2 separate regions of the Homo sapiens genome follow, and region 1 is linked to region 2. The links come from fine-mapping of genetic effects on gene expression. A gene starts in region 2. The other region holds a variant in brackets. All regions are shown on one strand. Distances are between the middles of the regions.

The links.
Region 1: its variant is fine-mapped to the expression of JCAD in lung (TOPMed, PIP above 0.99).

The regions. Positions count from the first base shown.
Region 1 is chr10:30,004,386-30,020,114 of GRCh38, forward strand. JCAD (junctional cadherin 5 associated) reads right to left here. Exons shown (of 4, transcript NM_020848.4): 4 at 8,418-13,532. The coding sequence ends at 13,498. Among named protein-coding and RNA genes, the nearest start is that of JCAD, 47 kb to the right of the region's middle. The variant G/A (reference allele first, on the strand shown) is at 7,106.
Region 2 is chr10:30,052,556-30,068,284 of GRCh38, forward strand. It overlaps JCAD (junctional cadherin 5 associated), which reads right to left and starts at 7,031. Exons shown (of 4, transcript NM_020848.4): 1 at 6,927-7,031. It overlaps LOC101929256 (a long non-coding RNA gene), which reads left to right and starts at 6,283. Exons shown (of 4, transcript XR_001747405.2): 1 at 6,283-6,471. RefSeq lists an enhancer at 4,152-4,689 and silencers at 6,974-7,143, 10,585-10,879.

The DNA of each region.
Region 1 (15,729 bases), 48 kb before region 2:
TAATTCCTCACGATGTGGGTCTCCCCACGGGAGTGCTGGAGCGCCTTTACAACATGGCAGTTGGCTTCCCTAAGAGCACAGGTTGGAAGCCATAGTGTATTTTATGATCTAGATTCAGAATTGGCACACCATAATTTTTGCAATATGCTAGGTGATTATAAAGTTCAACCTTATTTATTTATTTTTTTACTGTAAAAATTTTTTAACTTTTTAATTTTTTGAGTACATAGTAGTTATATATACTTATGGAGTATATGAGACATTTTGATACAGGCATATAATGTGTAATAATCACATCAGGATAAAGGAAGTATCCATCACCTCAGCATTTATCTTTTTTTTTTTTTTTTTTTTGAGGTGGAATCTTGCTCTGTTGCCCAGGCTGGAATGCAGTGGTGTGATCTCACTGCAATCTCCACCTCCCAGGTTCAAGAGATTCTCGTGCATCAGCCTCCCAAGTAGCTGGGACTACAGGCATGAGCCACCATGCCTGGCTATTTTGTTGTTGTTGTATTTTTAGTAGAGAGGGGATTCACGGTGTTGGCCAGGCTGGTCTCGAACTCCTGACCTCAAGTGAACCACCCACTGTGGCCTCCCAAAGTGCTTAGATTACAGATATGAGCCACCTCGCCTGGCCCACATTTATCCTTTGTGTTATAAACAATCCAATTATACTTTTTTAGTTATTTTTAATTGCACAATTAAATTATTGTTGACTATAGTCACCTGGTTGTGCCATCAAATACTAGCTCTTATTCATGCTGCCTATTTTTTGTACCCATTAACCATCCTCACTCCCCCCCTCCCTTCTATCCTCCCCAGCCTGTTAACCATCCTTCTACTCTCTGTCTCCATGAGTTCAATTTTTATTTTTAGCTCCCAGAAATACGTGAAAACATGCCAAGTTTCTCTTTCTGTGCCTGGCTTATTTCACTTAACATAATGACCTCCAGTTCCATCCATGTTATTGCAAATGAAAAGATCTCTTTATTTTTTATGGCTGAATAGTATTCCATTGTGTATATGTACCATGTTTTCTTTATCCATTTGTCTGCTGATGAATACTTAGATTGTTTCCAAATCTTGGCTAGTGTGAATAGTGCTGCAATAAACATGGGAATGCAGATATCTCTTTGATACACTGATTTCCTTTCTTTTGGGTATATATCCAGCAGTGGGATTGCTGGATCAAATGGTAGCTCTATTTTTAGTTTTTTGAGAAACCCCGTAACTGTTCTCTATAATGGTTGTACTAATTTACATTCCCACCAACAGTGTATGAGGATTCTCTTTCTCCACATCCTTGCCAGCATTTGTTACTGCCTGTCTTTTGGATAAAAGCTATTTTAACTGAGATGAGATGATATCTCACTGTAGTTTTGATTTGCATTTCTCTAATGGTCAGTGACATTGAGCACCTTTTCATATACTTGTTTGACATTTGTATGCCTTCTTTTGAGAAATGTCTGATCAGATCTTTTGCCCATTTTGAAATCAGCTTATTAGATTCTTTCCTATAGAGTTGTTTGAGCTCCTTATATAATCTGGTTATTAATCCCTTGTCAGATGGTTAGTTTGCAAATATTTTCTCCCATTCTGTGGGTTGCCTCCACTTTGTTGATGGTTTCCTTTGTTGTGCAGAGGCTTTTTAACTTGCTGTGATCCCACGTGTCCAATTTTTTTCATGCAATACTTGTTTTTTTATAGTAAATACAGATAAGCAATCCATTCATACCTACATACCCATAACCCCAATTCCAGAAGTCATTATTGTTAACATTTTGGTGAAAACATATCCAGGTTTGTTTGTTCTAAACTTTTGTTGTACTATGGTGTGGACCTCCTGCTCTACCAAAATAAAATAGCGGACCTGGTGTACCCTGCCTCCCTGTTTTGTCTAATACCTAGACACAAATTTGCTTCAAAACAAATATTTATTGATAAGTCATGTTATTGATATGTGCCAGGAATTTTGTTAGCCCCTGTGGATTTGCGAGACAGACACAGTCCAAACCCTCCAGACACTGTTGCCTAGGAGGAGGGGACAGTGACATTTGATACTTTCAGCACTCTCCATTACAGTCTTTACAGTGGTATGAAGGGGAAGCCTAAACCAGAACCGCCTAACCTCACCTGGCCAGGTCAGGGGAGCTGCTGCGGAACGTGAGGCTCAAACAGACATGGCAGATGAATGGAAATTGACAGAAGAGAAGGCGAAGGCCAACCAGCACAAATGACTGGCACACACACCGGCGCCAAGATAAAGGACCCAGAGGAGAGCTGGTGGATGGTCCATTGTACTGTGTCTGAAGACACCTCAAGTGGCTATGGGACCACTAGCATTAAAATCACGTATGTACTAGTTAAAAATGAAGTGTTCTGGCCCCCATGCCGGATGCACTAAATCAGCATCTTTTTCTCTTTTAACGCGTTCCAGGCACTGGGATACAAGTTGAAGTTTGATAGCCAAAGCCCTAGAGTCTCCATTGCTTGTGTGTAATGGCCGGGGAGCTCTTGCAGTGCAAGTCTTACAGGGTCTTCCAGAACCAGCTCAGCAAGGGACTCCACGGGAGGCATGGGGGACAGGCATATTTGCCGAACCACAAAAAGCAAATGAATGAAGGTTAGTTACCATATTTCATCAACTGCACGGGCACTTTTTTTTTCTCTCACATTTTAACTTCTCTGAAATTGGAATGCACTTATAATCAATGGCAAGTAGTAATTTCATCAATAGCCTTGTCTTCCTTTTTTGGAATGAAGCAAATAAAATGGCGTGCCTTCTGCGTGATGAAATACAGCAGTTGTCTTCCCCCACAGTCCCCCAGGCTCTCCTTCCTCATCGAGAAGACCCACCGAGGGGATAGTCTACATCCTTCAGAATATTTGCTGCCATGTTAATTTGTACTGCATGAACTTTCTCCTTGGACACAATTTTGCCCCTGATATCTTTCATCACTTTCTTCTGGCACCTGTTTCATTTTTGCCTTTAGTCACAGAGTCTCGTTTAAAAAAAAAAAATTGAAATCTGTTCCTGGGGTGCGTCTTCTGGATTTATAGAGGTATCTCTATAAATAAAAATCTCAATAACCAGGAAACTGAGTTCAGAATGCTTCCTCTGCAACTGAGACCAACTGAAAGAATGAAACAGAAAGGCAGAGCATTCAGGAGTGAAACTTGATATCTGAACAGAGAGGCCTGTTCTGGAATTTCCAAGGCTGTGGGCTCCATCTCGGGCAGGAAGGCAGTGACAAAGGCCCTTCCTGGGGACTTCCTAGTAGGATGCAGGGGTCTGTGTGGTTCCATCCCTCTCTGTGTCATCTAGTCCTAACCCTTCCTCTTCCCCGACCCCAGTCTCACCCACCAGCTGCCCCTGCCCCAGCTGCCCTGATGGTTTTCTTCTAAAGATGTTAGGACCCTCATGTACAGCCTCTGCCTCTGCAGAAAATGGGAAGAGCCTCCTCTGCAGAGCACACAATGATGGATGAGGTCTGCTGTTCCTAGAACCCAGAAACTTGGCATCTAGACCCCTGTGTTTGCCATTCACCTCTTCTCATGTATCCCTATTATGAACAGCAAGGGCCACTGTCCAGGCAAAGTCATTTCCTCTATGGAAGGGGCATCTCCCAGGAATGTGAGAGTTTGCACTTGACAGACCCTGGAACTAAATTACACAGACAACTGCTTACAGATAACCCTCTTGGCCTTGTGGCTGCTCCCTTGTTAAACTGAAGGCACTACTAACCCGCCCCCAACCTTTTTTTTTTTTTTGAGACAAAGTCTCCCCGTTGCCCAGGCTGGAGTGCAGTGGCACGATATTGGCTCACTGCAGCCTCAAACTCTTGGCCTCAAGTGATCCTCCTTCCTGAGTCTCCCAAAGTGGGGGGATTAAAGATGTGAACCCCCCTTTTCTTTGGGGCAGCATGTTTCATTTTTTGGTGAGACAAAATCATCCGTGCTGCCTTTGAGGTTCTGGTCACATCAGTTAGTCACAGAGACACGGGACACACACAAGCTGCTTGGTATTGCCGTCTAGTGAGCTTCCATCTGCCCTGGGGCTAATGCTCAGCTCATTGGTGGGTTAATTGTGTCAGGGCTTGCCAGTTGCCAATCAATAACTACTGTAACTCTTTTTTAGCAACAGAACTTTGATCTTATTTAGAACCACAGCGGCGCCCAGTTAAGTGGACTACATTTCCAAGACTCCCTTGCAGCTTGACTATGTGACTGAATTCTTGCAGATGGAATACAGTCCTCCTGGGGTATGCAGGCAATTGGTATCAGGTCCCTGAAGGACACCAAAATCCATGGATGCTTAAGTCTCTTGTATAAAATGATGTAGTATTTGCATATAATATTTATATGTCCTTCTGTAAACTTTAAGTCATCTCTAGATTACTTATGATAGTTAATACGATGTAAATACTGTGTAGTTATTATACTGTGATAGTTGTATTCTTAAGTTGTTGTATTGTTATTTTGTTTCTTTTTCTTGATATTTTTGATCTGCAGTTGGTTGAATTTGTGGATGCAGAACCTGTGAATGTAGAGGGCTGACTGTATATGCAGAAGAGTGTAGGACTTCCTGGAAGTCTCTTTAAAGGAAGCTAACTCATCTGGGAGGATAATTCTTCCTCTTGTCAGCTGCCTAGAAAGTGTCCAAGATAGCCAGTACTATAGCAGCCATCTTGGACCATGAGGTTACTTGCCTTCAGGATGGAAGCCATTGCAAGGATGCTGGAAAAGAAAGATACAAGGAATCCAGATCCCTGATTGCCAAGGAGCTTCCGTGCTAGCCCTGGACTGCCTGTCTCTGGGCTCCTTTGAAGTGTGAGAGAGATAAGTTTCCACTTCACCTAAACCACTGCTATTTTCAATTTTCTGGCATAGGCAGCTTAACCCAATCCTAACAAATGCATTTAGCATTGTAAGAGTGTTACCTTTGAATTTCATGACTAAATAGAGGATCATTCTGTCATCCTCCTAGGATATAACAAGCTAAAAGGAGCAGCATGGATGTTGGGGTTAACGTGAATAGGTCTGAATCCCTGCTTGGCTGCTAGCTGTGTGCTGCAGGCAATAATTCAGTCTCTCTGTACCTGTTTTGTCTCCCACAAAATGGTGTGCATTAAATTAATTAATGCATATAATATGCGATGCCCACAGTAAGGAACCAACAATGTTAGTTTCCTTGTCTTCCCCTCTTCTTCATGTTGTGCATTTTATTTTAAATACTTAAAAAATTCTAGGTATACGTTGAGTATCCCTTATCCAAAATGTTTGGGACCAGAAGAGTTTTGGATTTTGGAGTTTTTTGGACTTTGGGATATCTGCATACACATAATGAGATATTTTGGAACACAAGTCTGAACAAAAAAAAATTTTTTTTTTTTTTGAGATGGAGTCTCACTCCGTCATGCAGACTGGAGTGCAGTGGCCTAATCTCGGCTCACTGCAACCTCCGCCTCCCATGTTCAAGCAATTCTCCTGCCTCAGGCTCCTGAGTAGCTGGAATTACAGGTGTGCACCACCACACCCAGCTAATTGTTGTATTTTTAGTAGAGGTGGGGGTTTCACCATGTTTGCCAGGCTGGTCTTGAACTCCTGATCTCAAGTGATCCGCCCACCTTGGCCTCCCAAAGTGTTGGGATTACAGGCATGAGCCACTGCGACCGGCCAAAACATGAAATTCATCTATGTTTAATACACACCTTAGGTACGTAGCCTAAAGGGAATTTTATATAACATCTTAAATAATTTTGTGCACTCATCACATGTGGTCAGGTGTGAAATTTTCCACTTGTGGCATCATGGCATTCAAAAAGTTTTGGATTGGCCGGGCAAGGTGGCTCACGCCTGCAATCCCAGCACTTTGGGAGGCCGAGGCAGGCAGATCATGAGGTCAGGAGATTGAGACCATCCTGGCTAACATGATGAAACCCCATCTCTACTAAATATACAAAAAATTAGCCGGGCGAGGTGGTGGGCGCCTGTAGTCCCAGATACTTGGGAGGCTGAGGCAGGAGAATGGTGTGAACCCAGGAGGGGGAGCTTGCAGTGAGCCAAGATCACGCCCCTGCACTCCAGCCTGGGTGACAGAGTTAGACTCTGTCCCCCCCACCAAAAAAAAAAAAAAAAGTTTTGGACTCTGGAGCATATTGGTTTGGGGTGCTCAACCCGTAAATGCAGATTTGGGTTTATTTCCACACAAGCTGAGCCTGCTATCATAAACTCAGAAATATGCCGGTGGGGCTGGGCGCGGTGGTCATGCCTCTAATCCCAGCACTTTGGGAGGTCAAGGCAGATGGATCACTTGAGATCAGGAGTTCGAGACCAACCTGACCAACATGGAGAAACCCTGTTTCTACTAAAACTACAAAATTAGCTGGGTGTGGTGGCGCATGCCTGTAATCCCAGCTACTTGGGAGACTGAGGCAGGAGAATCGCTTAAACCTGGGAGGTGGAGGTTGCAGTGAGCTGAGATTGTGCCATGGCACTCCAGCCTGGGCAACAAAGTGAAGGTTCATCTCAAAATATATATATATATACCAGTGGAGTTAGATTAGGTAGAAAAACCCATGGTTGGCCGGTGCGGTGGCTCATATCTGTAATTTCGGCACTTTGGGAGGCTGAGGCAGGCAGATCCCCTGAGCCCAGGAGTTTGAGACCAGCCTGGGAAACATGGCGAAACCCCATCTCTAAAATTAAAAAAAATTACAACAAACAATCACGGTTAATGTACAGGACAGAGTGGGGAAGTCAAGGGAAGAAACATTGACCAGGGTCTCCAGAATAAATCTCATCTAACTCCAAGAAAAGCTGGGCTTTCCAGCAGAAACCAAACCAGAGGCATATGGGCTAGCACTCAGTTTCCCATGGAGTTTTGGTCCCCAAAACCCTGAGCAACGTAGGACTGTAGGACTGGCAGCTTTTCCAGCCAGTCAATTGCAAGCTGACCACTTGGGGAAACACTGCTGTGTGGGGTAGAAGCAGAAAGGCGATTTAGCTGGTGAGACACAAATATCTCCAAAACTAAGTGTATTTAAAAGGACCCCAGCAGCCAAATAGTGAGAAAAGCAGTCTATGTGGGTGACTGCAGATTAAT[G/A]CCTTGGGCTGACTGCCCAGTTTATAAACATCCTAGTGCCCTGCCCTAACGTAAGAAAAATATGTCAGGAGAATTCAATATTGTCAGTCCCTTGGCTGGGCCATAGCGACGGTGATGGGGAGATGCACGATAAGTTACTGGAATGGGGGAAGTGGACCACCCTGGTGAGAGAAATAATGGCAGGACTCCCACCCTGGCCATGACCCAGTCCGCAGTCACGTACAGACGTAGTTTTCCAATTGTTTTACTCTTGAACCCTTCTGGCAGGACAAAAGACCCTATGGACGTTCAGGTTTGCCAGAAAATAGTTATATAAGCTTAGAGTTGGAAGAAACCAGCTAACTGAGCTCAATCTCCCTCTCCACTTACAGGATGAAGTGTTCCAGGGAAAGGGGGTCAATGTCACAGCTAGTTAATGGCAGAGCCAGGCCCAGGATGAGTCCCCCAATTCCTGGGTTGTGTGTTTCATCTTCTAGCATTAATGTGGTCAAGGGATTTTTTTCAGTTATATTTTAATATGTGGATTAACTTATCAACCAACTAGGGGATAGTCCTTACTTTAAAACACACATCTTAGTGTGATCTGAAATTTCATACTACTTAGAGGGCCCCGGGATACTCAAGCTTTGGGGCTCTGCACATGTGGAGCCAAGGAAGAAATGAGGAAAACAGCTTACAAAAGCTTACAGGAGAGAGAGGAAGCCTACACTGGAAAGAAGGACCGTGTTTTTAAAAACTCAGAAACAACAGCTTAGAGGTTTATTGGTCTGACAATAGAAACGATTGGAGAGTATGATGTTGCACTGAGTCTCCCTCTGCTTCCAGAATAGCCCTACAAGACAGAGGCCTGGATGGTAAAACCTACAACACTTCCAGGCAAGTATTTTCCCCAGAAGGCACTGCTCTAGCTTCATTCTCCATGCAGTCAACACCCACAATGTGCTGGAGGTTCTCTATATATTGGATTCTTATGTTCCTTTGGTAGGAGAGGCTGGGGAGGACACAGAAGCCAGGGATGTGATGTGTACAAAGTCACATGGTTATTGATAGAGTCAATATTCACACCCAGTTCCCAAATTAACTCTAGGCCTCTTTCCACAATGTCAGTAAGCCTTGGGGGAGATGTAAACAGGAGCTTTAACTCCCGGGAAATCCCAGTGGAGACCAAAGGTGCTGGAACCCTGTGGGCTACCTGTCCCTGCATTACCCACACCATCTGAGCTGCTCCCCGTGCAGCCTGCTGCCCGCCCTTCAGGAACCAGCCTCTAGGGCAGCTCTTGCACCCACAGTAAAAGACAACGGACATAGGTACTTTCATGCAAAATCTTTATTTGGAACATGTATGTTACTGAGCAGGCCAGCCGCCATCCTGAAATAGCAAGGATATTTACACTGTGCAGAGAAATACAAGAGCTTCTTGAAGACATTCATCTGTGCTTTGCCGGCATTTTATCTGCTACTTTGTCCTGCTTCTCTCTTCCCTGTGCTCATTATTCTTCATGCACCCTCACCTCTCATCACCTTAAGGCATCCTGTACCAGCCTGATCTGGGGGCGATGACTGCAGCCGGCAATCGGCCATTACCAATGGTGTCTTTCTGGGACCCTTTCTACCTGTCTTAGGTATTAATGGTGCCCAAAGAAAAAATGAAGAGATGAAAGTTTCTGTGGTTAGCTGGGCATGGTGGTGTGCACCTGTAGTCCCAGCTACTAAGGAGGTTGAGGTGGGGATAGTGCTTGAGCCCAGGAGCTTGAGGCTGCAGTGAGCCGTGACTGCACCACTGCACTCCAGGCTGGGCAACAGAGCAAGACCCTGTTTCAAGGGGGGGAAAAAAAGTTTCTTTGGAGTTGCAAGGCCTTGTCTTCACTAAATTTTAGAAGTCCCCCCGAGATGTTTCTGCTTAACTTCTCTGACAGGCCTGACTGTGAGGGCTCGAATTTCAGCTGACCTAGGTGGAGAGTACTTCATTGATTTTTATAATCTGGAAATGACTGCTTTTCCCCTTGCTGGGACATATGGTTTTCATTTCTGTTTGCTGCCATATGCTTCTCAACTTGAACTTGCCTTTGTCTCCTTGCTCCGTGACAATGAATGTCTCACATCTCGGCTCTGCTGCGGGGCAGGGGTGAAGGGAGGTGGAAGAAAGAAGAGATGGTCCTTTGGCTTGGTTGTAAGCCCTAGTAGGGCCTGTCTTTCATACGGAAAGGGTTCCTCCTAACCCCTATCAAAGCATGGGGATGAACGGCCAGACAATCTGGGCTTGCCTTTGGGTTTAAGTTTCAGTCACTAAACAGAGACCACAGAACAAGGACCTCCCTGTCCTCTGCTGTATTCGTACACACAAGTATCGCAGAGGCTTTCCAAGGTCGATGCCAGGAATCTGCAGGAGCCTTGGCTGCCTTCCCACACTGCTGATGAACCAAGGACTGTTTCGACAGGCAGGTTGCTAGCCCACATCAACCTTTTCAAGAGGCCTCAATCTGAATTTATGGTCTTAATGACTCCCTTTTTATTTCTTTCCAACAAAACCTGCAGGCTGGAGGCCATTCTTCCTTTAATGTTATTTTATCATCTCCCCCTTCTTAGTGTGGTGGGTCCCAGAGTGGACCAACCCACACTCCTGGAGAAGGACCTCCCGCCATGCAGATTCTTAAAGGTCACTGGAATGTGTCTCTTAAATCCTGTCCTGAGTAGCAACTCTCCTCCCACAGACAGATGTACAGAATCTGCAGTCAAAAACAAAACAAAAAGAAAATGCAAAAATCCCCCAGCCTGCAACAGCTTCGGCTTAAGAAACACACTCCCACCCCACATCCCGTCTTTTAAGCTTCATCTCCCCTGCATAAATGGGTCTGGTAGAACAATGCTCCCCAACGCTAAAGTAATTGCTTCTAAGAACTTAGGACATGGGAAATGTTTCTCTAAGCTCAAATATGGATAGAAAGACAATTCTGCTGCACTGGTCACTTTGCAAGAGATGCTATCCTGACATTTAATTGTGTATTATTTAATCATTTAAAACAAACAATAATAAAAAACTCAGCCAGAACACGCAAACGTGATCTCTGGGGGTCACAAGATGAAATGGTAGGTGAATGTTATCTTCTATCAGCCCCTTTTGCCTCCGAGTTGGGAAAGTAGTTGTTTCAACAGATCAGCTTCATCCTTTTTCTTCAGAAGCCCCAAACCGAGATGCTGTCAGAATAAGTCATTTTGCTGCTGCAAAAAATGATCACAGTCTGGTTTCTGAGTCATCTGAGTTTTAAAACGTAAACTTCCATTAACAACGGCCCTTCACCAACAGTAAAATGGGGCAGCAAAAGTTCTACTTAGAATTTCCACGTGAATGAAACCCGCAACCTACAACTCTGCTAAGGAAACCAGGATCTCAAAGAACAGATTCATGTTTTAGGGACTTTAAAAGAAGAAATCCAAGCAGTTATGCACATGGACATAATCCTGAAAACCCAGTCAGGGGCTGGGTGCACTGTCAGTGAGGAGTTTTTCTGTACTTTGCAGAAACATGAGGTTGAAAGTGATAATATAGATATTTGGTTTTCAGTCATTCAGAAATTTTCTTCAAAGAAAGGCAATTTGAGCTAAATTACCATCATTTTCCCTTCTTTTGCAAATCAAGAAATACTAATCCATTGCATATGTAATCCCTCATATAATTTTTAGCCCAAATGGTCAAAATTACAACTTTTAATTTTATGAGCTCCAAATTATTAAACACCAACAGTAAATTGTGTGCATGAGAAGAACAAAGACAAATACAAAATATAGAAACTTTTTCTTCCAGCCACAAAAAACGAAGTTATGTATGTATGAGAAATAGAAACAATAACTAAACAATTAGTGTTAAATTCAAGACCTCTGGGAAAGCTGTTGTTGGTTATAGGCTATTATTTACCTTAGAATATGAAAGTTTAAAGGTCAAATTTTCAAGTTAAACTTTTCAAGTTACCTTCCCCCCAAAAAAGATTTACATGTAGGCTTAAATTTAGAACAGTTAAAGTATAAATGTTGAAAATTTCAACTTAATTCAGAATGGTTTCAGAAAGATATGATACAACAATTTAAGATAACAAAACAGAAGCGCATCACATTTTGGTTTGAGAATCACAGAAGGTACAACAGTTTTTCTTCCTTGGGGATCCTTCTCTTTCTCTTGAGGAATGAGCTAAAATTAAGTTATTTTGATTCAAAGAGGTATTTAGATGGTATCAACAAAATTTCAGAGGAAATCAGAACGGAGTTCATATACATGTATGGGTATGTGTGCATACATGTACGAGTATACATGTGCACGTATATAAATGTATATACACATATACCTTCTTACGTTTGCATTTAAAGAGGGAAGACCCCACAAAGACCTCCAGGCGCCTCAGCCCTTATTTGGTACTACCAGGTGACTTCAATGATTCACCAGCTACAACAGTGTCTGAACTCTTCCCCACTCAACTTTTCCTGGGAAGAGGATCTTTTTGTTTCCCGCACTTATTGCTGCTGTGAAAACTGGAGTGCACTCTCACTTTTCATAAGAGCTGAATTCTGGACTGCAGATAAGTGTTTTGAAAAGGCTTGGAAAGATTTTTCGGGGCGACTTAGGTTCTGTTTTGTTTGTTACAGTCCAAATACATAAAGTTATTATGAAATAAAATCATACGGTACAGATGAGAACAGGCCGGGACAGCCCGGCCAGCCGTTTTAGGGCCAAAGGACAGATCACCCAACGGTTCACATTTTAGGAATTCGAAATGTCTAAAAATAGATAAGGTGGTTTCTCTAAAAGAAAATAAAATGAAAGAGAAGGGGAAAAAATAAAAGGGAAAAGGAGGACAGGGTGAAGGAAGGAGGGCAAGAGGTAGCAAGGGAGGGAGGACAGAAGGAAGGAAGAAAGGAAGGGAGGGAGGGAGGGAGGGAGGGGAAATGATTTAGGGAATGTTAGTTGTCAGGAATACCTTACTTAGAAAGAAGGAAAAAAATGCATGAAAAAATGCATAAACTTTGTGCAGGTTAATGCAGTATTAAACACAGTAGAATACATAGGCCTCATAATGCTTTTGTAATGGCATATATATAATGTCCCCAAGCACTTTCTAAAAATATGCAGAGACTAATTCAAGATCATTCTAGATAAAAATACGTATTTCTTTAAAGGGGTGGGGTGGCAGGGTGGGAAGAAAAGCATGGTCTCAGGGTAGATCCCCACACACATACAAAGATAAAACTATGTTTTTTGGTAATTCTAGTTGATACGGCAGCAAAAATTGTCATGACAATGTTGGCTGGTTTTCAGAGGGTTATTTTCAAATATAACCTGATAGCTACACTTGTACAAAAATCTTTGTGAAAAGTTTCTTTTATTAACCCTGTGATATGTCTATATTGACATTTTCTAAGATAAAATAAAAGTAGCAGAGTTGTCAGTGGGTAAGGGACAGAGCTTTAAAGCAAAAGTGAACCCTCTTTGGGTTCCTCTCACACAAAGGGATACAGACTCTTAAATAAAATAATACTTCCTTAAAAATCTGCCGCCTAACAATTGTTTACATCATAGAAAAATAGCATTTTCGTAAAAAGAAATATAGTCACTTTGTTAAAATGGTCTATTTTAAACCAGCAATTATTTTTCATATAAAGAATTTCTAAATACCCATACAGAAAATAAAAATAGATAATACTGAGTGCAAAGCAGACAATGGCGTGTTTGCAAATGATCAAAATATTTCACTGCCAGATAAATAATACTCTTAGTATATTACAGTACAAGTTTTAATTTTTCAGGAACTTAAAAGATATTGCTTTTATTCTCTGATGGCAAGTTACTTATAAGTAAAGTTACTTCCAGCAGCAGAAGGCCAAATTGATTAGAAATGGATCATACCTATTGATTCACATTTCCCCTAAACTGAAAGTGCTGAAACACCGGGCAACAGCCAGTGTCCCAAACTCCTTCACAAGAGCATGGACTGCAGGCCATGGAGACACAGAGGGGAGCACACCATTCACAGGCCTTTCCAAAGCATTTGCTAGATCTTCCACATTGAAATCTTCACCCAGAATGAGAGCAACACCAAACTATTTACCAGCTTAGTCAAATCTGTCATGAGGGAGGGTTTCTGTGAAAACTCCTTCCTAATTATAGGCATTAAATCTTCATGCTATAAAAACAGATGGTTTCAACGGACGATTGCTTTATCGCCACAAAGCAATTCTGAGAGGATGGCAAGTTTCCTAGTGGCAGTGGTAAAGAATGTTATCAGGATGCTAAAAACTCAGCAGCTTCCAGCTTCTACATGGGGAAGTGGGGCTGATAGACTAAATCTACCAGCTACTTGAGAATACTCAATTCGCAACGGAATGCAAGCTCCACCGGCATTTCATCACACCCTCTCCACTCTGCTAGGGTCATAGGAATCTGTAAAATAAGAAAAGAAAAGAAAATTAGTGTTATATTCAACTGCTCTATTTTCTGTTTAATCCTTAGACCACGAATTTGTCTAGGGAACAAAATCTACAAGTGTATAAAGGTTAATTTTTAGACATTTTAACAATCATGTTTTCACTAAGGAGTAAAAAACTATTTGTCAAAAAGGCTGTTTTCAAAGAATTGTGCATAGTCATTACCCAAACACAGATGGGAAAATATGAACTGCTGAATACTTCGGCGGCTCCTTCCTGTTCACCGTGGAATATACTTCACTTTAAACGCAATGTTTCCAAACTGGCAGTGATGTGTTTGGCTGATATTAAGGTAGATGTCTTATCTTTCTTTCTTCTTCTTCTTCTTCTTCTTCTTTTTTTTTTTTTGGTAAATTACAGCTCAAAAGAAAGCTTGCTTTAGAATACGCATCTTTGTGATCAAACGCTGTCCCTTGAAGGCGTGAGGATCCTCAAATCCTGACTGCTTGGCTGGCAGAGAGAGGCTTTCTGTCTCTCATCACCACTGACCACTAGGCAGCCCCAGGGCTGGATGCTCACCTGTCAGCGCAAGGCTTCTAGAGCCTTCTAACACAGGTATGTACGAGTCTGGCCCCTCACGCACTGATCCATTCTACTGCCGTCAATGGAAAAATCCCAATCTGTGCCCAGATGACCTGGATTTCTAAAACGGGACACCATACAAAAGAGCAATCATCCTAAACTGCCACTACTGCTGCTGCTGGGTGCTGCCAAGTCCCACAACCTCCAATTCACAGATGTCTGTCTGGAATCCAGACAAACCTAAGGCTCACACGTGCGCCTCCTGTGGTAAGATTTTCCTGCCATAGCAGCTCAAAGGCTTCTTATTTTTTAAAGAGAAAATGTCTAAGCAATCTGGAAGGAGTACAGCCATTATGGAAACATTATGGAAGTTCCTCAAAAAAATTAAAAATAGAACTACCATATGATCCAGCAATCCCATGACTGGGTATGTATCCAAAGGAAAGGACATCAGTATGGAAGAGATATCTGCACTGCAGCATTATTTACAATAGCCAAGTTCACTGCAGCATTATTTACAATGGCCAAGATAGGAAACTACCTAATCATCAAGGTTTTCATGACTGGATGTATGGATAAAGAAATTATATAGCCGGGCACAGTGGCTCACGGCTGTAATCCCAGCACTTTGGGAGGCCGAGGCAGGTGGATCACCTGAGGTTGGGAGTTCAAGACCAGCCTGACCAACATGCAAAAACCCCATCTATACTAAAAACACAAAAAATTAACCAGGCATGGTGGTACGTGCCTGTAATCCCAGCTACTCGGGAGGCTGAGGCAAGAGAATCGCTTGAATCCAGGAGGCGGAGGTTGCTGTGAGCCGAGATGGCGCCATTGCACTCCAGCCTGGGCAACAAGAGCGAAACTCTGTCTCAAAAAAAAAAAAAAAAAAAAGAAAAAAAGAAATTGTATATACACACACAATGGGATATTATTCGGCCCTAAAAGATAAGCAAATCCTGCCATTTTACAACAACATGGATTAAACTTCAGGACATTATGGTAGTCAAAAAAGCCAGACACAGAAACACAAATACTGCATGATCTCACCTATATGTGGAATCATTTAAAAAAAAAAAAAAAGTTGAAATCACAGTAACAGAGAGTAGAAGGGTGGTTGCCAGGGGCTGGGGTGAAGGAAAAGGGGAAATACTGGCCAAAGGGTACAAACCCTAAGCTATAAGATGAGTAAGTACTGGAGACTGAGTGCATAGGATGGTGACTTTAGTTACTAATGCCATCATGTACACTTGGAATTTGCTGATAGAGTACATCTCAAATGTTCTCAGCACACACTCAAAAAAACTGGTAACTATGAGAGAAGATGACTATGTTAACTGCCTTGACTGGGGTACTCATTTCACAATCTATAGATGAATCAAAACACCATGTTCTATACCTTAAATATATGCAATTTTTGTCAATCATGCTTCAATAAAGCTGGGAAAAAAAGAAAAAGGAAAAAAAACAGCAAGTCTCGGCATGGTCAAAAAAGGTGATTCACTTAAAAAAAAAAAAAAAGGAAATCTGGAAGTATCTGAAAAGTTAGAAAAACAATCTTTTGGCCGGGCGAGGTGGCTCATGCCTGTCATCCCAACACTTTAGGAGGCCGAGACAGGTGAATAACCTGA
Region 2 (15,729 bases):
GGATAAATGGCCACCCACTGAGGAAAGGAGTGGGCTAGGGAAGGCAGGCCAGGAGCGAAACATCCAGCAATTCTCCATCCCAGAGTGCGGGTGCTGCACGCTTACGCCAACGTAAATTCATCAGGGCACTTGTTTTACATTGGAAGTGCCAGGCACTGGGCTGAAGAATATAAAGACAAATAAGACCCCGTCAGCACCCTCCCTTGCGATGCTATGGTCTAGGTGGTATTATTTCAATTACGGATCTTCTCATCACTAAAGGTTAGGACTGGCAAATGAATGCCATTTAACAGGTACCATCTTCTCCTTCCTTTCCATTTATAAAAATAAGCATTTTAATTCTCATATTTACAGTTATAATGCTCAAGACAGTGAAAGGAAACAAAACATTAAGGAACTCATTAAATCAACCAGAACTTTTTTCCTTTTTAAAATTGGCCTAGAACACAAACTAAAAATTAACTTTAAAAAGAGAGACAAATATACTATTAAAAAGATGAAAAGCATGGTCACCCTCACCTGTAATCAAAGAAATGCAAATTAAACCAAAATGCCATTATTCACTTATGAGATGATTAAAGCTTTTAAAAAGCAATGCTTGTTGTTGGTAAGGGCATGAGGAGCTATAAGGGTTCTCCTGTTTGTGTGTGTATAAATGGTGGGGGGTGGGGGGTGCAGGCTATATGTAAATGAAAATGAGTATTTCCCTTCTTAAAAGTGATTAGCCAGGTTCACTGGCTCACACCTTTGATCCCAGCATTTTGGGAGGCTGAGGCAGGCATATCACTTGAGGTCAGGAGTTAGAGACCAGCCTGGCCAATATGGTGAAACCCCACCTTTACTAAAAATACAAAAATTAGCCAGGCGTGGTGGCGCTCACCTGTAGTCCTAGCTACCTAGTAGGCTGAGGTGGGAGGATCCTTTGAACCTGAGGTGGAAACTGCAGTGAGCGGAGATTGTGCCACTACACTCCAGCCTGGGTGACAGAGCGGATACTCTGTCTCAAAAAAAAAAGAAAAGAAAAGAAAAGAAAAGAATTATTAATATGTAACAAAATCTTTAAACATCTGAAACCCTATGGAATAATCTCACTTCTTAGGATCTGTCCTAATGAAATAATCAGAGATACACACTGTTTTGTATAAGGATAGTTATCCCAGTTTTAATTATGATAATAACAAAATTAGACTAAATGTCTAATTTAGTAAAAAAAAAAAAAATTCTGGGCCAGGTGCAGTGGCTCACACTTGTAATCCCAGCACTTTGCGAGGCTGAGGTGGGCAGACCACCCGAGGTCAGGAGTTCAAGACCAGTCTGACCAACGCAGTTAAACCCCGTTTCTACTAAAAATCCAAGAAAAATTAGGTGTAGTGGCATGCGCCTGTAGTCCCAGCTACTCAGGAGGCTGAGGTGGGAGAATGGCTTGAACTTGGGAGGCAAAGGTTGCAGTGAGCCGAGATCGTGCCATTGCACCTCACCCTGAGCGACAATGAGGCTCCATCTCAAAAAAAAATTCTGGTGCATCCATATAGTGGACTATAATATGTATACACATACATAAAATTATGTTTTCAGGTATACAACAGCACAGGGAAATGCTCGTGATACCACGCTAAATAATAAAGACAGGATACAGAACCCTAGATTCAATGTCATACCAAATTTGTTTATATACATATGTACTTGAAAGGGGAAAAAACACTGAAAGGAAACATACCAAAATGTCAGCAGAGGTGATGGACTCTGAGTTTTTGAAAAATTTCCTTATTTATACTTTACTGAATCTTATGATATTCTGTCATGAAATGTATTAGGTCCAATCATATGAAATTGTCATTTTGCAGGTCAAAAATAGTCAAATATTGGCAATTTCATATACTTACTATACTTAACTTTATATACTTAATATTAACTTAAGTATATATAACAACATATATAATATCCACATTCTTATTATATAATTTAATATAACAATATTGTTTCATCACCAATCATCATTATTCATAACTTAATATATTAACATATTACATAACTTAATTAAGTTATATATAACTATTTCATCATCAGAAAAAAACTTTCATAAATGAAATGCTGCTTAGGTTAGATGAGGAAAATGCATCTTTTTTTTTTTTTGAGACGGAGTCTCGCTGTCGCCCAGGCTGGAGTGCAGTGGCGCAATCTCGGCTCACTGCAGGCTCCGCCCCCTGGGGTTCACGCCATTCTCCTGCCTCAGCCTCCGGAGTAGCTGGGACTACAGGCGCCCGCCACCTCGCCCGGCTAATTTTTTGTATTTTTAGTAGAGACAGGGTTTCACCGTGTTAGCCAGGATGGTCTCGATCTCCTGACCTCGTGATCCGCCCGCCTCGGCCTCCCAAAGTGCTGGGATTACAGGCGTGAGCCACCGCGCCCGGCCGAAAATGCATCTTTAAAAATAGGTTAGGTATTTGGAAGCCTCAATGACAATAAAAGAAACATTGAAGAAAAGAATAAATGAGTAGTAAATCACATAAGGCTCTAGTATATGGTACATGTGCCTTATCTGCCAGAGAGACTCTTAACCTGTTTTCAGGAAGCCAAAATCACATGTGCTGCTGAAGAAATCTAATACAAGGTTACAACCAGCATTCTAAAAAGGTCTTAATTAGACATTGTTACTCCTCTAAAAGACCTAAAACTTTTCAGTTGTATTCACTGACATTCCATGCTTAAGATGTAATTGGTCCCTCAAATTGTTGGCAGTTCAGTGTAAATATCTCTTCAACTGACAACATTTAGGTCTAATGCTATGATTAATATATAACAAAGTACTTTCTTTAAACAAGAGGTAAATCACCAAGACATAAAACAAACCAGAATGGAGTATGTTGCTAACTGACACGTAGGTTTTTAATGCTTTCCACAGATTTTTTCCTAAGGGTAGAATTGTGTATTTTACTATGAACAATAGAATTGCTATTTCCCTTTCCAGTCTTAATTATTAAATAACGCAACAGTCCCAGTTGAAGTCCTGGGACACCAAGTTCTCACAGACTGCTGTTACCATACCACACGTGTGATGACCAACTCTGCCAAGGCAGTCAAGTTGTTAAAATCTCACAAGATGTAAAAAATCATACTTAATCTGTGAAGTAATCATTTTAGGAGGACATCCTTAGGTTTCTTTAAGGTGACAAAAAACAAATGAGTTGGAAAACTTGTGTCTAAGATCAAAAGGACCTTGGAACATTAATCTTGCTGGGGTGGATTGGTATTAAGGCATTTGTTCAAAAAAAGAGAAAGAAAAAGAAAAAAGTCCCCAACATTATGCACTGAATTTTTTTCCTAAGTATTATCCCTTCTGACTCCTCTTTTTTTTCTTTCCACAACTAATGTGAACACACACACATGCACTTACACACACTCTTTCTCCTGTCTTCTCTTTCACCTCTAAATTCTGTGTCACACAATTATTGCTTTGGCTAGCAATATTTTTATGAGACCTTAAGTACCTCATTAACATTTCTGAAAGATTAGAAGTCATTAAGAAAGGACTCAAACTGGATAAGATTTTTAAATCTTTTGGAATTTTTGGCTATTTGCAAAAATAGCTGTAAAACATCATCATAGGTTAGAGTTTTATTCCCTTATCATCATGTATGTCAAGCTCCACATGTAAAGATACCTTAAATATTCCATTAAACTTACCCTTCTTTTGGTTTTGTTTTTAAATATCTTCAGAATAAAAAAAAGCCAAGTCTTTATCAAAGTGTTTGACTTAAATTATTTCATATGATCTTTACATTTCTATTTATTTCCTAAGTACAAAAGTCATGTAAAGTGATTTCAAAAGTAAACACTGCAAAACTCAGTGCTTAAGTAAAAAGGAAAAGTTCCTAGTAACCCCACTGTGCCAAGAGATAACCAGTAGCAACAATCTGGTTTCTGTTTCTCTAACTATTCTTCCTACACAGACAAGTTGCTTGCTTTTTTTTTTTTCTTTCCTTCTTTGGAATGTATCTTGGTGCTTCTTCCTAATAGTATCTAAATTCTTTCATTTACATACAGAAAAAACAATCTTTACAGGTAAACTATAAAGACAACCAATAAGCCCAAAACTATAAGGATACTTCACGATCTGATAACAAATCTGCCAGCCTATTGATTTAACCAGGCTATTCCCAAGCATATCTATAGAAAGTTGTTGGGAAAGATATTTGGTTATAGATAATCCAAATTTTTAACAAGACATCTTCAATTCAAATCAAGATAATTGAGGTTTTAGTATCTGGGGGAGGGGTTCCTGTATTTTTCTAAACACCATTTAGTGTTTAAAGCATATATCAAAGCCCAACACCTCCCCTCCCTGGGCTGCTGGCGTTTGCAAGTCAGTGGACCTCAACATTCCTTCCATCAGCAGGCCCTTGAAACAAAGCACAAGAGCAAGGTTTTAATGAGAGAGATAACCCTTCTCATCCAAAGGAGGAAAAACAACATCTGTTAAAAACCCAAGTAAACTGCAGTAATGGGTTCAGCAATAGGCCCAGAGGACTTCAGAGAGATAGTCTTTGCTTATCAAAATAAAAAACACAATAGAACAATTGTTTCACTCCAACGCTCTGTGTTCTAAACGCTCTCCAGATTAATTAGCATGGAGTTTCGCCAAGCTCATTAAAAGAAAAACTAAGGACTCCTAAGGATGACTGGTGTTTACTGTCCTCCCAAACTGGCCAGTGAGAACTTGGGGGAGCCACAGACTTCTGGGCTTTCTGTACTGATAACATTTCTAGGATTTATTTTTAAATTGCATGTTAAAAATTAGACTACAAGAATCTTTTCATATTTACTTTTTTTAAGTGAAAAAATTGGTCCTTATTTATTTTCCTTGTGTACCTCCAACCCTGCTACATTTTATAGCTGCCGAACAATAGACCACAGGCTTCTGGAATCTGTGACCACTCGATGAGCTATTTGATAACCCTGATGACTTTGTCAAGTCATCCAGAGCATGTGGACACTCAGGCCAAACTTCTTTTTTCCCCGAAACAGGCTTTCTCCACCCACCCAAATCCCCTAATTCTCCTGGGCCTGCCAAGGGCCTGACCTTCCAGTCTCTGCAGCAAAGGGTGAAGTTTTACAGGAGGAAGGCCCAGCAGATTAAAGGCCTCTGTTCAACAAATATTTGCTCGCCCACTCCAGGCGGAGTAACAGTTTCTTACATGCTGCATGCCCACAGTGACACTTAGAGACTTCAGGAAGCTTGTTAAGCTGGTGACTAAGAATTAGACACCTAATGTCAAGGTAAATAATTAAGTCCCAATCCACAGACGTTATGGAAAACCAAACCACTTTAACAAACTCCCAATGTCACACGAAAACCAACACAAGTCCAATGAAATAGAATCTGCATATGATTTCCAAAAAAGCCTGTATGCATTCTTGCTTTGCCGGGTGGTCTTAAAATTCTAAAATGAACTGACATTCCCAAAGTTTTACCTGTACAGCCCATGACCCTCAGTTCACACCATGCAGACTGCCTTTTTTTGCCAGAGCATTTCTGGCTGCCCGAATCCTACCCATCAGGCCCCTTCCCCCAAATCCCTGTATTTTGCAACCCTAGCCCTCAATCTCTGGGTTATCTATTCCTTGTAAATCTGAAAAGACAAAAGACCGGAGAAGGAAAACAAGTTGTGGGAGAAACATCACATTAAACTGTCAGGACAGGAAACCCTGGGAGTTGTGTGGTCTGCACCGCCCCACCCCTCTCCCCAAGACTAAGACCAAGCTACTAGATTTGGGGAGGGAATGAGGACACGGGAGGCGGGTGGAGTGCGTGCGGGGGTGGGAGAGTGGGTGTAGGTGTGGGGAGGTGATGTGCCCAAGCTAATTCCCCCAAGGCCTCTCTACTCCTTAAGCGCGTGGATGACCAAACACCAGGGCATGCCCAGGTAGCGCTGGCCTAAAGTTCTCGTTTTTATTTTCTTCTTCAGTAGTGAAATCACAGCTTCTTTACAAATGCCCAGAAGAATCCCAGGCGCTCTGCTTCTTGACGGAAGCGAGAGGGGCGCTTTTTAGCAGCTAGTGCTGGGCCCCACTGTGGCCAGGGCATCGAGGCAAACCCTGGCATTTTGGGGGTGAACGGACCCCGACTGGAGACGGGGGAAGTAGAGGGTGCCCGCGGAGATCTGAGCGCAGAGACCCTAGGAGGGCGGGTTCCAGATCCCATAAATGAGATAATTAACGGGATTTACAGCACTCCTAGGCGGGGCTCCTGCCCTTCTCCCATCCCACGCGCAGCCAGGAGCCGGGCGGCCCCGGGCACTCGCTGGGAGGCAGCTGCGATTAGCGCCCTAATCCCCAGCGCAGACCGCGCAGAGACCGGAGCGGGAGCGGGGCCGCGGCGGGAGCCCCCCACCGTCCCGGGCAGTCCAGACGGCCGGGGCAGCGTGGGAACTGGGACCTCGGGGACCCAGCGCGGCGGCTGTCAGCTCTGGGGTGAGGTCCGCGAGATCTGGGCGCGAGGGCGCGGGAGGGGTTGGTGGACACAGGCTGGGGAGGGCGACTTCGAGAGGGGAGTGAGTGACCCCGGCCCCCCAGGCCCTCCGCGCGCCGAGGGGCGACGCGAGCGCTAACGCCAGCCGCGGCCCGCGGTGCCCGCCCCGGGACCCCCGCGCTCCGAGCGGGGCACCTGAGGGGAGGGGACGCCCCTCCCGGGCTGGCAGGCGCCCTCCACCCCGAGGCTGCCGGGCTAGGCACCGCGCGGGGGGCCCAGGCGGGGCTGCGACTGGGGGTGCAGACATCCCCCACCGCCAGGGTGGCTGGAACCGGAGCGACGTCCCAGCTGGAGAAGTTGGGGGGAGTGCGGGAGGCTGCGGGTGAGGCCCGCGAAGCGCCGTGGGAGCGGCCCTAATGGACGGTGGGAGCCAGGAGGGTTAGACGCCGGGACTTACCGAGCGGCTCCCTCATGCCGCCTCGCGCCGCCACCGCCGCCGCTCCGGCCGGCCGGGGACCAGCGCGACCCGCCCCGCCTGCAGCCGCCGAGGCCGAGCATGCCCGGAGAACCGCCGTCCGCCCCGCCCACCGCCCGGGCCCGCCCCGCCCACCGCCCGGGGCTGCCTCCTCTGCGCTGAGGGCGGTATCCAGGCCACGAGCTTCCTAGGCTTTTGGGGTCCGCCTGCGTGGGTCGCGCAGAAGGCACAAGTGAGCTGACCACCATTCCCTCTTTTCTTGTCACTTGGGTTTGGGCCACGTCAACCCTGTGGAAATGTCCAAAGACACACACACTCTCACAGATACACAGAAAGCAAACATATTCATATCACACAAACACACAAAGATGTATGCAAACACACTCATATACACCCACACACAGATGCACACAAACACACTCACAGGAAACAGGCGCACACAAACACATATACAGGACACACAGGTGCACACACAGTCACAGACAAGTGCACACACACTCAAATACAGTCACACGCAGGTGCACACAAACACACCCATATACAGTCACGCACAGATGCAGCCAAACACACTGACACATATACATACATACATGGGAACACAGTATGGCTATACACACACACACACACACACACAAACGCACCCACATAACACATCGATATTATGAAGAGCAGAAAACAGTGATGGTGACAACAGCTTGGGATTTACTTCTTTCAAAAAAAAGTCTGAAGGAGTCTGGAAGCCACCTTCAGATCAGCTGGCCCATACTCTCCTGTGGCAGAGGAGGAAACTGATGACAGGAGCAGGATTTGCCTACAGGGCAGGGGTAGGAGGAGAGATAGGAGGAGGTCAGTGGGAGAGTTCAGACCAGAATGAACATTTGGGGTCATTTGGGTAACCCCAAACCCACTCCATATTTCTCTTACAGCGGGAAGGGGCAGAAAGATTAGACTGCTGCCTGGGTCTGCTCAGGGCGAACGTTTTCATAATTTTGGAAGGCAGACAGAAGACAAAAAATGTGAAATATTGCTGATGCATTGGGGAGAGACAGGGAATGTTAGTTAAGTCCACCCAGACAAAACATGGATGGCACAGCAGACTGGTGACCTTGCCAAATTAGTTTTCAGAAAACTACTTAGCCACATCATGATTTTAGGACTGTATTTGCTGTCGAAACACCAATAACTAACTTTTTTTGCTCTATTACCACATCTGAGCCCTTCCTATGTATTATTTCTTTTAATCCTCATCACAGTTTGATGATATGGGCACCACTTTACAGATGAGGAGTGGGCTCAGGGACGGGCACAGATGGCAAGCTGCAGAATCTAGCCCAAGACCCTCGCTCTGAACCACCAGAGCAAGGTCGTTTCTTTGTTCTCTTGAATCATATGTTCCTCATGGTTAGTAGCAACGTATAATCTAACACAGCATAAAAGCTAAACACACTATTGCTGGAAAAGAACGAACAATGTAATTGAATGTTGTATTGTGCATTATCAGGAGTGCGTGGGAGGAAACCAGATGGTGGCGATAGGAGCAGGCAGCATGATTAGGGGCTCGAGAACCAGGTAGCTCAGGTCCCGGGCTTGGCTTCTCTGCCACTTTCTAGATGTGGTACTTTACTTCTGTTAGCCTCACTTTCCTCTCTAACAAAGTGGGGGTAATGATGGTTTGCATCTCATAGGAGAGTCATGAGAATTCAATGAGATGATGCCTTCTTATCACTTAGTTCAGGTACATGTAATAGTCAAGAAAATGGTGGCCGGGCATGGTGACTCATGCCTGTAATCCCAGCACTTTGGGAGGACAAGGCAGGCGGATCACCGGAGGTCTGGAGTTCGAGACCAGCCTGGGTAAGATGGTGAAACCCCATCTCTACTAAAAATACAGAATTAGCCGGGCGTGGTGGCAGGTGCCTGTAATCCCAGGTACTCGGGATGCTGAGGCAGGAGAATCACATGAACCCGGGAGGTGGAGGTTGCAGTGAGCCAGGATCATGCCACTGCACTCCAGCCTGGGCAATAGAGTGAGACTCTGTCTCAAGAAAAAAAAAAAAAAGAAAGAAAAGAAAATAGTAGCTACTACCATTAACACTTGTACAGCTACTGCTGTTTGACTTGGAACCACCAGGGAAGACTTTGAAGGACAAGTGGATTGTGGCTAGGGAGAGACACAAAGGCTGGGAAAATAGGATTCGACAAAATTTAAAAGATAGAAAAGGAAATGCAGACTTTTTTTTTTTTTTCTGGGGAGTCACAGTTATTAACAGCAGTGATATTACTTCTTGTCAAAAAAGCATCATTCGATGATGGATTTCTTCAATGACTTATAGAATTCCTGTTTCTCCTCAATTTGCCAACTCAATGAAATAACTTTGTCCTGGGGTGGAGCACCTCTATGTGCCCAGCATGGTGCAGACACCTAGGGAGCCAAGTATTCCTGCTAGAACATTTATCAGTCAGTGAATTGAGATTAGGATGTGTTTCCCCACAGAACAATGTCATATTGTTGGGTTTCTAGGTCAACCCCATGGAAGTTTTATAATGTACCTAAGGGCTGTAGAGTTGCAAAACAACAGAGTAGGGTTGCAGTAAATCAGAAAACAACACTGATTCAATGCTAGGAGCTAAGCTAAACCAAACCAAATCAAGTTTAATAAGAAATTGTATTTTAGCAGAAAGGCTGGCAAAGGCAGATTCAATTAGGGGAATGTAATGGGATTGAAATACTGGAGATTCTAGAGAAGATGACTTCACAATTTCAAGATGCTTGTAGTTTCTTGACCCTGGCTCTTTATCCTAACATCCTCATTTCAAAATGTTTGGCTTCCGTCTTTCCTCAGTACTGATGTATCCCTAGCCCTGCTCTAATGTTTTCCTGGCATGACTAAGGCCATTTCAAACAAAGAAGCAGAATGAAAAGATGGAGAGAGAAGATGGTGGTGAGGCTGTGGATGTGGGGAGAGGGGCAAGCAGAAAGGTGGAAAGCTTTTCTAAAGATCTGGGAATAGAATTAACAAAGAGGAAAGAGGGTGTATTATTCTATTCCCATGCTGCTAATAAAGACATACCCAAGACTGGGTAATTTATTAAGGAAAGAGGTTTAATGGACTCACAGCTGCACATGGCTGGGGAGGCATCACAATCACGGTGGAAGGCAAAGGAGAAGCAAAGGCGCGCCTTACGTGGCAGCAGGCAAGAGGGCATGTGCAGGAGAACTACTCTTTATCAAACCACCAGATCTCATGAGACTTATTCACTATCACAAGAACGGCATGGGAAAAACCCGCGTCCATGATTCAATTACCTCCCACTGGGTCCCTCCCACAACACGTAAGGACTATTACAACCCAAGGTGAGATTTGGGTGGGACACAGAGCCAAACCATATCAGAGAGTAAGGTTGAAAAGATGCATGAGTATGAGCAGGTGATTAATCATAAATGTAGGAAGATAATAAAGATAAAAGGTAATGAGGAAAATCCACTGGGCCAGTTTCCACACCGGTCACCAGTACATGGACAAGGGATGGTGGGCAAGACGTGAGAGAAACAAGCCTAACCTCCTAATTCCCTTATCCCTACCCACTCCCATTTTCCTGCAATTTGGGTCTCTTGCTTCCACTTACTTGATCTTGGGAGATTTAAACACAGGAAAAAAAAAAAAACTCGCTTATGTGATGTAAAATATAAACTATGATTGAAAACAGCATTTAACATGAAGCTGTTAGAAGTCTGGCACAGCCCTGGGAGCATGTGCCAGGATCCAGCCCTGGATGCCCAATGTCCCCGCCTTTCTTGAGTCCTGGAGAAGGGATTTCACAGACTCAGGAAGGAACTTGGATTATTGAGTCATTGGGCAGATGTGCAGTAACCAGAAAAATAATGTTTAACCGCCTGCTTAAAGAAAGAAAAAAAATAAAAGCCAAGATCTTGTTTCTCTAACTTACTGCCTGTTCAAGGACCTAGAGCAACCCTCCTCCCTCCCTGCTTTAGGGCCCTTCTCTGTAGACTATAAGGTTTCCTTTAGCTGATTTAGATATTGATTTTGTTTTTCTTAGTCTGTAAAGACACTACCAGTTCTCATTTTTTAAAAGATTAACGCTCTTTTAAAAAAAAAATTTGTTGTCTTCACTGACACATAATAATTGTACATATTTATGGGGTACAGTGTGATGTTTTGATGCTTGTATACATTCTGTAATAGTTAAATCAGGGTGTTTAGCATATCCATCTGCTATAGTTTGAATATTTGTTTCCTCCAAAACTCATGTTGAAACTTAATCCCCAATGTGGCAGTGTTGAGAGATGGGATCTTTTTTTTTTTCAAGATGGAGTCTTGCTCTGTTGCCCAGCCTGGAGTGCAGTGTCGTGATCTCGGCTTACTGCAACCTCCGCGTCAGGGTTCATGCAATTCTCCTGCCTCAGCTTCCTGAATAGCTGGGATTATAGGCAAGTGCCATCGCACCCAGAAAATTTTTGCATTTTTAGTAGAGTTGGGTTTTCACCATGTTGGCCAGGCTGGTCTCGAACTCCTGACCTTGCGATCTGCCTGCCTTAGCCTCCCAAAGTGGTGGGATTACAGGTGAAAACCATTGCGCCCAGCCCAAGAGATGGGATCTTTAAGAGATCATTGGATCCTGAAGGTTCTGCCCTCATGAATGGATTAATCTATTCATGGATTAATAGATTAATGGGTTAATGGATTAATGGGTTATCATGGCGGGGAACTGGTGGCTTTATAAGAAGAAGAGAGACATGAGCTAGCATGTGAGCATGCTCAGCCCCTCACCATGTGATGCCCTATACCACCTTAGGTTGACTCTGCAGAGTCCCCACCTGCAAGAAAGCTCTTACCTGATGCAGCCGCTTGACCTTGGACTTCTCAGCTACAAGAAATAAATTTCTATAACTGTAAAAAGTAAATTTCTTTTCTCTATAAATGACCCACCTGCGGGTATTCTGTTATAAGCAATGGAAGGACTAATACGCCATCACCTTATACATTTACCATTTCTTTGGGTTGAGAACATTCAAAATCCTCTCTTCTAGCAATTTTGAAATATACAATACACTTGTTAGCTGCAGTTACCCTTCTGTGAGATAGAACACCAGAACTTATTCCTCCTAAATGAAACTTTGTACCCATTGACCAAAAAAACCCCACGTTCTCTCTTTTTTTTTTTTCTTTTGAGATGGAGTCTCGCTCTATCACCCAGGCTAGAGTGCAGTGGTGTAATTTCAGCTCACTGCAACCTCCACCTCCCAGGTTCAAGCAGTTCTCCTGCCTCAGCCTCCTGAGTAGCTGGGATTACAGGCACGTGCCACCACGCCTGGTTAATTTTTGTATTTTTAGTAAAGACGGGGTTTCACCATGTTGGTCAGGCTGGTCTCGAACTCCTGACCTCGTGATCCACCCGCCTTGGCCTCCCAAGGTGCTGGGATTACAGGCGTGAGCCACCGTGCCCGGCCAAAACCCCACATTCTCGATAAAACCTTGAGGTCTCTCTTGTTGGCTTGTTTTAGAAAGTCAGGCAATAGTGGTTACACAGAAACTGGCAAGGATCTTGTGAGGATAGAGAGTATATTGGTGGGTACCAGAGGCCAGGAAGGGTGGGTTTGGATAAAAAGAAGCTGATTAATACATACAATATACACTTAGAAGAAATAAGACCCGGCATTTGATATATCAGTACGGTGTCTATAGTTAACATTAACCAATTGTTCATTTCAAAATAGCTGGAAGAGAATACTTTGAATGTCCCTAGCATAAAGAAAAGATAAATATTTAAGGTGATGGATGTCCCTATTACCCTGGTTTGATTATATGAATTTATCAAATTATTACATGGATCCTGAAAATATCTACATCTAATATGTATTAAATAAATAAATAAAAAGCTGCCAAATTGAAAAAAATCTAGAAAGGATTTTATGTCAACAAGTGCTAATAACACTTGTTTTTAGTTATTGCTATGCTTTATATTAATTCACAGACTATATCGCATAATTTTTTTTTTTTGACATGAACTCTCACTCTGTCATTGAGGCTGGAGGGCAGTGGTGTGATCACAGCTCACTGCAGCCTTGACCTCCTGGGCTCAAGCCATCTTCCTCCCTCAGCCTCCTAAGTAACTGGACTATAGACACACACAACCATGCCCAGCTAATTTTTGTATCTTCTGCGGAGACGGGCTCTCCCTGTGTTGCCCAGTCTGGTCTTGAACTCCTGGGCTCAAGCAAAGTTCCCACCTTGGCCTCCCAAAGTGGTGGGATTAGAGGCATGAGCCACCATGCCCAGCCCTGCATAATTATTTTTAACCAAGAACTAGAAATCTGTTTCTCAAAGTCTGCTCCATGGACCACCTACACCAGGATCAACTGGGGGAGGGAGAGTTGACTAAAGGCCAAATTCCTGGGCCTCATCAAACCGATGCAATCAGAATTTCTAAGTTCTACCTTTGAGATCCTGGAATGTGTACTTTAAGGAAATGCCCAGATGATTCTCACATACAGTAAAGTGTGAGAAGCAGGGATGGAGCACAATAAATAGAAATGATCTGTGTCAAGAGAGGAATGGATTGATTGACACGTAGTATACAGTGCAAAGACAGTAGCCGTGAACGTCATTGTATGATGATGGAGAGTCACATAGCAACATCCTTCACTAATCAAGTGCATTAGATGTTTACTGTTGGCTTAGAAGATTTGACGCTAACTGAAACAAAACCTACAATGCTGGGGACCAAGAAGAGAGTGACAAACAATTTTTCAATCCTATACCTCCACTGTGAGGAGATTGAATCTGCATAGTTACTGCATGAGAAAAATCATTTCTAATTGTTTGCTCTCCTCGTGTCAGCTTGTTCTCACGTAAAGCCACATATTAATGGAAAACAACTCTGTTACACTCACCGTAGCAAAGAGCTGCTGTTTACTAGTGGTAGAAAGACATTCCAAGCTTCCCCCTGCCTGCAGTTTATAAAATTCTTTGCCAAATTCATAAGGAGGCCTCTTGAGCGGTGGTGCCCTCCAGGGAATGGCAGTGGCTGTCAGGGATCCCGCTGGTACCGGGGGGATGCCAATGTGGCTTCAAGCAGACAGGGGTGTGGCCAGCACCAGAGTGGTCCAGACGTGGGCACCCCTTGGGCTGCCTCTCCCACCATTCCATACCAGCTAATCAAGAATAAATCAAAATTAACTCAAGCATTTTTTAACCCCATATGACTTTTTGTTTTTAAAATGGGAAATAGGCTGGGCTCCGTGGCTCACACCTGCCTCAAGTGACTGAGGCAGGCAGATCACTTGAGGTCAGGAGTTCAAGACCAGCCTGGCCAACATGGTGAAATCCCTTCTCTACTAAAAAATATGTGCTTGTAGTCCCAGCTACTCAGGAGGTTGAGGTACAAGAATCACTTGAACCCAGGGGGCACAGGTTGCAGTGAGCCAAGATGGCATCACTGCACTCCAGCCTGGGCAACAGAGTGAGACCCTGTTTCCAAAAAACTAAAAAATAAAAATAAATGGCCAGGTATAGTAGTACATGCCTATGGTTCCAGTTACTCAGGAGGCTGAGGTGGGAGGATTGCTTAAGCCTAAGAGTTCAAAGCTACAGTGAGCCATGATCATGCTACTGCACTCCAACCTGGGCAACACAGCAAGACCCTGTCTCAAAAAAAAAAAAAAGAACTATGCAAATAACTGTGAACTACATTAATTGTAAAAAGAATGCCTCCATTTGGGGAGAGAATGGTGTATCAGGCTTTTATTAAGTCAGTGATGCCTAGCAATACAAGGTGGAAGGGAGAGATGAGAACTACCTTTTTTCTGTTTTTTTTTTGAGACAGGGACTTGCTCTGTTGCCCAGGCTGGAGTGCAGAGTGCAGTGGCACGATCTCGGCTCACTGCAACCTCCGCCTCCCAGGATCAAGCGATCCTCCTGCCTCAGCCTCCCTAGTAGCTGGGACTACAGGCATGTGCCACCATGCCCAGCTAATTTTTTGTATTTTTAGTAGAGACAGGGCTTCACCATTTTGGCCAGGCTGGTCTCGAACTCCTGACCTCAGGTTATCTGCCCACTTTGGCCTCCCAAAGTGCTGGGATTACAGGCGTAAGCCACTGCAACTGGCCAAGAACTATCTTTGTTTTAATGTTTCTTATGTGCCAGGCACTGGGCTAGGCCTTGACTTATGTCCTTCGATGTACAAAAGGGTAGCACTTACTAGCGGGGTTGTATGGTTTTGAAGTACAGTCATGCATCACTTAATGATGAGAATACGTTCTGAGAATTGTGTTGTTAGGTGATTTCATTGTTGTGCAAACATCCTAGAGTGCATGTACACAAACCAAGGTGGTGTAGCCTACTGCATACCTAGGCTACGTGCTATAGCCTATTACTCCTAGGCCGCAAACCATGCAGCAAGTGACTCTACTCAATCCTGCAGGCAATTGTAACACAGTGTTATTTGTGTACCTAAACATAGAAAAAGTACAGTAAAAATACAGTATTATAATCTTATGAGACCACCATCATAGATGTGGTCCATGGTTGGCTGAAGTATTATGCAGTGCATGACAGTGGTCTTCTAGTTAAGTGTAAAAGGATGTACGGCCGGGTGCGGTGGCTCAGGCCTGTGATCGTAGCACTTCGGGGGGCCGAGGCAGGTGGATCACCTGAGGTCAGGAGTTCGAGACCAGCCTGGCCAACATGGCAAAACCCCATGTCTACTAAAAATACAAAAAAATTAGCCGGGCATGGTGGCAGGTACCTATAATCCCAGCTACTTG